Linked DNA regions of Homo sapiens: region 1 is linked to region 2. Evidence: fine-mapped expression QTL. A gene starts in region 2. The other region holds a variant in brackets. All regions are shown on one strand. Distances are between the middles of the regions. Region 1 overlaps GAP43 (growth associated protein 43). Region 2 holds the start of GAP43 (growth associated protein 43).

What was found. PIP is the estimated chance that this variant, and not a neighbour inherited with it, causes the effect.
Region 1: its variant is the best candidate, but not a certain one, in a credible set for the expression of GAP43 in lymphoblastoid cells (TwinsUK, PIP 0.55).

Annotation. Positions count from the first base shown.
Region 1 is chr3:115,650,867-115,655,265 of GRCh38, reverse strand. All of the region lies in intron 1 of GAP43 (growth associated protein 43), which reads right to left. Among named protein-coding and RNA genes, the nearest start is that of GAP43, 30 kb to the right of the region's middle. RefSeq lists a silencer at 3,966-4,075. The variant G/C (reference allele first, on the strand shown) is at 1,938.
Region 2 is chr3:115,621,242-115,625,640 of GRCh38, reverse strand. It overlaps GAP43 (growth associated protein 43), which reads right to left and starts at 2,131. Exons shown (of 3, transcript NM_002045.4): 1 at 1,922-2,131. The coding sequence starts at 1,951.

The DNA of each region.
Region 1 (4,399 bases), 30 kb before region 2:
GGAACCCTGATCCCTGCCAGACCCTTCAGCAATGAGTTTAGAAATATTCTGGTGTTCACAGATCGAAAATTTGACCACCTTGATGCAACCTGGCCTCACTAAAGTTTAGTCTATACCTAAGTTACACAGATCTCAGAGGTGTGTGGGGCATGAGAAGTTTCCTAATCCTACCCTCTACTCATACATATTTCTTGCCTGGAAAACTTTATAATCAAAGATTTATTACTACTTTCTTTAGATGTGGAGATTTGCCCAGTATCACTAGAAATTTTTAAATATACCAAACCATCTGAATCATTTCCTAGGTGTCTCTGGACTTCCCTGCTAGATGCCCCCCGTGAATTTCCATATTCTTTAAAAATCACCTCACTCAGTAATAGACAGTAATGAGACCTCTGCACAGAATGTTACAGCTGCACTGTACTGTGTACATTTCTGGAAAATGGACTTGGTATTATTTTCCCCCAAGAAACCACCAATTTACACATCTGTTCTTTGCAGCAGTGGATATAATTATCATGATGCTGTTTATAGGAACATGACCCTCTGAAGGGGCACTAGCTAAATATCTGTAAACAGGGATAAACATACTGTGTTTCTTTCTCAAGCAATTTGAGTAATTTTTGCTGGAGGAGAAAAAAAGCCATCTTTTGTCCAGCCAACGTTTGGCAGGATTCGCCTTTCTGAAAGTGTGACTGTGTGTGATTCGTTGTGCCCCAGGAAGGCAGATTTACTGAAGCACTCTTCTGACTCAGGAACATAGTGTTCAATTAAAACAGAGCTTTTAAAAAAAAGACTGCTAAGAAAGGTGAGCTGAAGTAGCATTGGGTCTGCTCATCTTTTCCTCAGATCTTCCTGGGATGAGCTGGGGTCTTTAGTAAGGACCATTTGTATTTTCTAAGTATCTTTCTCCAGAGAAGAACTTTTCAGATAAACTCTCCTCCTTTGCGGTTTCATCTACTGGATAAGTGGACAAGTGTGTGACTTGCTTAAGTTTATATTGAAATTGAGTAGAATAGTCAATATTTGAATCACTTGGTACTTCATTCTGAGCACCAGGCAATTCTGTTTTATATATATTGTGGCCAACTGATAAATTAAAGTGAAAACAATTGAAATATGGATGTATTTTTTACACCACAGCAGAAAACTTCAAATCTGTGAGAGTCAATTGACTTGAATTTTTCAGCCTTGAAAAAGGCAGAATCATCCAATCACAGAAGGAATGTGTAAATGCCTATAGACAGTGGATTTGGTGTTGGGGGAGTGGAAAGGGGAGATGTGGAGACCAATATTTCCTCTCTACTCTTGATCCATGTATTGTAGAAAATGTTCATTAGGGCTAATTTTTTTTTTAATTTCAGATGTTAAATATCTGAAAAGTGATACATGAATCTATCTTTCATAGGAAAATTCATTAAATATGAACAAGGCAAAGTGTTATTTTTAATATAATAGCAATACCTACATTTGGATGGCATTACTCAAACTCTAGGGCCAGTGCAGAGTGAGGACTTCAGAGATAAGGCCCAGAGGCAAGATTAGAAAACCTAACATACAACCAGGATTAAGAAGCATGTGGCATGTCTCTGAACGAGGGATTTGAACTAGATGGTCAAGTCTTTTTCAACTCATTAATTCTAAGAATCTGTAAACTTAGTCTTGGGAGAAATAAAAGTTTTAGGAGGCGCAGGTTACCCTTGGTGAAATAGTGGTATTTCACCCCGCCACACAAAGTAGGGGCAGACACCATTCTTCAAAAACTTTTTCTAGTCTCCTTTGACATTGGAAAAATTACCTTTTTATTTATTTTATTTTGTTTTTAAGACAGAGTCTCACTCTGTCGCCCAGGCTGGAGTGCAGTGGCAAGATCTCAACTCACTGCACCCTCCGCCTCCTAGGTTCAAGTGATTCTTGTGCTTCAGCCTCCCAAGTAG[G/C]TGGGATTACAGGCATGCGCCACCACACCCAGCTAATTTTTTTGTAATTTTAGTAGAGACAGGGTTTCACCATGTTGGCAAAGCTGGTCTTGAACTCCTGACTTCAAGTTATCTGCCCCCCTCAGCCTCCCAAAGTGCTGGGATTACAGGTATGAGCCACCGCACCTAGCCCAGTACCTCATATTTTGGGCAAAAAGACAAAAATTTATATGCCCTGTTGTCAGTATTCTCCCAGATGAGGTAGAGAAACCCAGTCTTGAAGTTTTAGCTCTGCCTTCCCTCTCATTTGAGTGTCTGCTTAGTCTAACCTAACTAGATCCTTCAACTTGCCTCATAATTTCTTTGGCTGGTAACTTCCTCTTTCAGAAGTTCTGAATAGCAGAACACATTCAGTTGCAGAGGTATATAAAATTGTACGGAATCCACTGTTAATAAGTTACAGAAATTCTCCTGTCAGTACATTTAGTAGCTACTATTTTGTCTCAAGACGGTGGTCTGAACCAAAATTACACTTCATATCTATTCATTTTCATCAAAATCTGTCAACCCTTTCAAAAATTACCACAGTGAGAAGTATATGCAAAATATTAGGAACTTAGGTGAAACGTCTTAATAAAAATCATTTATTGAACACTGCATAGGCGGCTGGGTGCAGAGGCTCATGCCTGTAGTCCCAGTGCTTTGTGAGGCTGGGGTGGGAGGATCACTTGAACTTAGGAGTTTGAGACCAGCCTGGGCAAGAGCAAGAACCTGTCTCTACAAAAAAGTTTTTAAAAATTAGCTGGGCATGGTGGCACATGCCTGTAGTCTCAGTCACTCGGGAAGCTGAAGTGGGAGAATTGCTTGATCCCAGAAGTTGAGGGTGTGGTGAGTTATGATGGTGCCACCACTGCACTTAAGCCTGGACAACAGAGCAAGACTCAACAGAGCAAGACTCTATCACAAAAAAAAAAAAAAAAAAAAAAAAAAAAAGAATGCTGGATAAGAATCATCAGGAATACAGGAATATAGAGATGTAGAAAATACGATTCTTTCCCTCAAAATAATTACTGTTTAAATATGGTAACAACAAATGAAAGAATTAAATAAATAATACAAAAGATAATATCTTCAGAATTAAATGAGCGGTACAGTTTATTTGTGGAGAATTCAAAGGGAAAGATGGATTTTGGGGAAAGGTGATGGACTCAGTTTCAATGGTAAATGTTTGGAAGGAACTAGACACCCAGTAAGCAACTAGAAGCATCTTAGTACAGGAAATATACACTTGAGTGTCTTTTATGAGAAGGTGATAGTTGAAGCTATGAAGGTGGAAGAAAATTCTAATTAAGAGAATTAAAAATAAAAGATCAGAAAAACTAAGATCATGTTTTTGTATCACCTCTATCTAGAAGACAGAGGAGAAAGTAAAACCAGCTTAGAGGAGGAGAGTAACAATTGAAGAGGGCCAGAACAGGGGCCAAGAATAGAGAGGATCCTAAGAAGTGTTCAGCACAGTCAATGCGAAAATGTTAAGTGAAGGCTGAGAAAGGTCTTTGCAAATATAAATTACAAGGCCACCAAGGACCTCAGGGAAAGCAATTTTAGAACAGTGGGGGAGGGAGGGAAGAACAGATTACATGTGTTTAAGAAAAGCACGGGCCAGATAAAAATGGAGGAAATTACTATATGCTTTTGAGGTGTTTATCAGAAAAAGGAAATAGAGAAACTACAACCTTCTGCTTCTGTGTTGGTAAATAAAATGGAATGCAGCAAGAGAAAAGAAAAATATAGAAATGTACATATGAACTGAGTTTAGGATAGATTTTTTCTCTTGATGCCGAGGTTAGGCATCAAATGAGGGTTCAAAGTTGACTCCCTCTCATCTAGATAACTGGTAGTAAAATTTATCTTGCCAAATGAACACAAAAATTCATGCAACAAATTAAAAACAAATGATATACTTTTCAAACACTAACTTAACTTTTCAAACAACAGGTCTTCCGTATGTGCAGAGTGTGCATGGATGTGTGTGTGTGAGAGAAAGAGGAAGAGAGACTTGACTTCATTTAGCAAGAAACTCATAATGTTGCAGAACCCCACCTCCACTGACCATGCTTCATTTACTGAGGGCCTGTTGGCATATGGGTTCCAAATAATAAAAGGTTTCTCAGTGTGACAGAATTGGATTTTACTTTCTTTATTATTATTATTATTGTTTTTTTCCAGACAGGGTCTCTTCCAGAGTGGAGTGCAATGGTACAATCACAGCTCACTGTGGCCTCCATCTCCTGGATTTAAACAATCCTCCCACCTCAGCCTCCCAAGTAGCTGGGACTACAGAGGCATGCCACAATGCCCAGCTAATTTTTTTATTTTTATTTTTTTGTAGAGACAAGGTCTCGCTATTGAGGCTGGTATGGAACTCCTGGGCTCAAAAAAATCCTCCCACCTTGGCCTTCCAAAGTGCTGAGATTACAGGC
Region 2 (4,399 bases):
TTTATTAAAGGAGATGTATGTATACTTGCATATGTACACATAGGGTGGGAACAAATTATGAACCTGAATATTTTTCTTTCCAAAATTAAAGCTTTTTAAGTGGATGGCTTTGGCTTACTTAGTGCTCCACCTTCCTAAATGTTATTTCCCCAGCTCACCAGTGAAATAACCTCAGGACTTTTCTTTGACAGTGTTCTTAACCCAGACACCTGTATTTATTACATTTATATATTAAAATGAAGGAGGACACAGAGAGAAAATGCCCTGGTTTGATAAAATGAGCCAATGGAAGCATCAATCTCTGTAACCATAGGGCAGTTTCAGGAGATGCTGCAAATACCGCCCCCAACTCAATCCCCCACTATCCGACTTTTTCCCCCAAATAGCCCCACACAATCCAGGATGTCTGCTTATTTATTTATTTATTTATTTATGCCAAATCTCTACTCCCACTGCTCTGACATTCTGCTTCAGTCTCCCATCCTCTTCCTGCTCCTTCTCCTTCATCCTCACTCCCCACCCTTCCTTCCAGGGCGCTGGCTAAATGTGCTAAGCTGGCAGGCTGTTTCTTCTCCACTCTCTTCCACCCCCTTCGGATTCAGGGAGTGTATTACAAATTGCCCAATTTCCAATACCTGCACTGGAAATTATACCCAAATTCCATCTCTTGCACCCCACCCCTAAGGCAATCAGTCTGCGAAGGGCTTCTTTGACCAAGATTGCCCCCACCACACCCCCACCCCCACCACAGTCAAGCATACGCACACACTCACCCGTATCCCACACCCATTTTTCTCTTTAACCTTTGCCAAAATCACTCAAATGCATTCCAACAAATGTTTGAAAGCTTCTTTTGGAGACTGCCATGGCATGGTCGGTTGCTGCGGAATACCACACTCGTCATTCCTTCCCACTCTCACCCCAATCAAGTTTCTAAAATGTCTTTCAAGAAATAAGCGAGCAATTGGAAATGGCTGTAAAACCTGGGCAGTGGGGGAGGGAAGGAGGGGCTCTGATTCTTGCTAATCTTGGATGTGTCCCTCTTCCTGATGAAAATGAGTCACCATACTTATTATCCAGGATGTTAGCCTGTCTCTGGTCACTGACAATCCCAGGAAAGAAGCAAGGGAAGGGGATAAGAGAAAAGACCTGGTTTCCAACAGGTAATACCCGGCTGTCTTTCCCATCCCATCGGAGCTCCTAGGGGCGTGGTCCACCCTCTCCTCCGACCAGCTGGTGCACAATCGGCTGCTGATCTTAGGAAGGGGATTTTCTCCTTCTGCATGGCCAATTTCTCCCCCAGCCCCAGTTGTCTTAGCTTCTCTTAAAAAAAAAAAAAATCTATCAAATCACAGTTTCATTCATTCATTGAAAAATAAATACTAAATAAATAAGACCTGCACGTTTTTCCATAAATACCTGCGCCCCTTCGAAGCTCATGCATGCACGAAATAAGGCATCTTCCGCAGCACATGTGAGAAAATTGTATGACAGAGAGGCAATACTCAGTTCTGAATATTATTTCCTCAACCCTGCTTTTTTGCAAATAATATAAAGAAATGCCTCCCCATCTTGTAGGTAGAGCCCACATCATCTCCCCCACACCCCTTTCTACGTCCACACCCTCAAGACCAGAGACCTCAAATGCTGAGCATTCACTAATAAGAAAAAAAAAAATTATTTCTAGCCAAACAGGCATGTTTTTTCTACCCTCACCCTAATTAGTAGCAGCATTCCAAAACCAGAGCATGAAAGACAGAAAAGAATAAAAGCTGGGATGCAACCATCAGTTACCATATGCTAAGGAAGCGCGAGCACCACGGCCAGAGCAGAAGCAGTAAAAAAATTGTTTGCCTTTACGGGGAAATACTGTACTCGGGTTATTTCACAACAGCAAGAAGTAAAAAATCTTTAGCTCTACCTGTTTGGTTCTTCTCATACAGCACAGCATGGTTGTCTCGTCCCTTGCCTTCTTCCTGCCTTCTCTCCTTTCCTTCTCTCTCTTTCTTATTCCCCCCCTCTCCACCTCTTTTCTGCTCGCTTGCTCACTCGCTCTCTCGCGCTAGCGCGCTCTCTCTCCCTCCCTCCCTCTCTCTCCCTCACACACACCAGGGCAGTTAGCAGCAACTGTAAGGTCCACAGCTATTGCTCATCGCACATGCTCGCTCCCTCTCTCTAGCGCTCTCTCTCTCTCTCCCTCTCTCTCTGGTGCTCTCTCTCCGCTGTCCTCTCTTCCCTCTCTTCTCCTTTTTTCTCCTTCCCCCCAATATCTATCTATCTGTCTTTTTCTTCCCTCTCTCTCCGTCTCTTTCTCGGAATTGTTCTCTAGCCTTCAGTGACTAATCACTTCCCCCAGCCCCTACCCCCATTCTAGACAGTCGCCCCCTCCCAGTCCCCTGCCAGCCTCATGAATATTTAAACACCTCCAATCTGGACCCAATTACCCACCGACTTTTCCACTGCATTGAGAGGGTGATGGGGTGGGGGCAGAGAAGGATATTCCAGTCAATCCAGGAGATATGATAGAGCATGTTTTAGGGAAGAGGGGCTTGAGGAATCCTTGTATTTCTTTAAGAACTCTTTTCCTCTTTTCCTAGTATTATAAAAGCAAAGAACAGCTATTTCTAAAGAGGAATTGTAGTCAGTCCTATACAATATAAGTCATATCTGCCATTACATTTTATGCATAGTTAATAATTGTGGAGGTTAATTTCCCTCAAAAAATGAAATAACATGTAAATATCATACACTGTTTATATATTCTTCTCAGTATACATATAACCTGAAATAAATACAAAGCTTAGATATGCACAAGCATATTTTATATATGTTCCAATATCCTGGAAAAAAATCCACATAAATATATTGCATTTTAAACATTCTAAGCACTTGAGCTCAGAAATAATAAACAATGTTTAAGAATTGGCATCCATATCTAAAATCACATGGTAGTTTTTTGTTTTTTCCTTAATGCACATATACCTGTTTGTAAATTGTGGTTTCTTCTAATTTTACTGAAAAAGCTGAGCACATTCAAACAGGTCTGTGTAATATTGACGGTGATCAAAATGATATTTTACAATTTGGGCATGAGAGATTAAAGTGAATTCATCTGAGATGAGAAGAAACGATAAGTCATGAAGCCTACTTCTTGAATTCCTTCTATGGCCTTTCATAATTTTGGGGGAGGAACATGTGACTCTTAAAGTGTGTATAGCACAATTTTTAGTTATTTATTGTTGAATGAGTTTGAGTGTGTTACTGAAGCTCTTTGCACCTAATTTTCTCATCTTTAAAATGGAGATAATAATGCCAATCTTGACAACATGTTTTGAGGACTAAATGATATAACGCATGCAAAGCACAACAGTCTCTCTGAGTGTATAATAGCTTTACTCCAGAGACTGTACTTTTCTGAAATTCGGGTGACATTTGCAAGTGAATATCTCAAAGAAGTTTTCAAACTATTTCTTGTTGTTCATTAGTGATGACAAGTACCCCTAATTAAACAGCTCATATTCTTCATAGTCCCTCCTAGACCTCCTAGACATAAACCTAGCTAATAAGTGGCAACTAGGCAGCTTATTGTTAGGCATATTTCAGGATCACTGAGCTCAATAAGTGCTTAGTACATTTTAACATAATTTAAGGTATATCTATTTCAAAATGGACTATCTCAGACAGGTACCTGGGAACGATGGTGATGATGATACCCAGGAGGTGATATTTAAAATTAGCCTTAATTATTCCTCAGGAGTCTTCCTGAGAGTGGCCTGCTTCAGATCCGCTGATTTGGTCTTTCATTCTTCTCAGTTTGCTTCCTAGTTTTCATATTTATGATTAAAAAACAGAATTAGTTTCTGAGTTTAATAATTTTTTAATGTTACAAGGAGCCCAGCCGCTTTCAGAACAGCCTTCCGTGATTTTAAGTGATAAAAGAGGACAAAGAGTGGGTGAGAAATGGCTCCTACCAGAAACATTCCGGTTGCAGATTAGGAACACCCTACCTAGCCTGCTAGTGGCTAAAGAGCAATGAAGGGAGGAGGCAGAGAATGTGGGGATTGGGGATGATGGAGAAGAAATTGCACCTTTTGGTGTTTAAACAGGATAACTCCATTGATAAGACCATTTCATTAACTATGTGGCCAAACTTAAAGAGTGGGACTAATTCCTTTCCCTTTCGATGTACTCACCTCAGCCATCCCATTTATATTTTTCCCCCTTTATATATGGGAAGGAACCTTGGAAACAAAGTGGCATAATGAAGTTAAACAAGCTAGGGCTTAAAACTGGGCACAAGCATTGATGAACTTTGTGACTAAATATGTGAAACCACCCAGCTCAGAATCAGCTTCCTCATCAGTTTACATGCATTATTTTATCTAATACTCAAAATGAG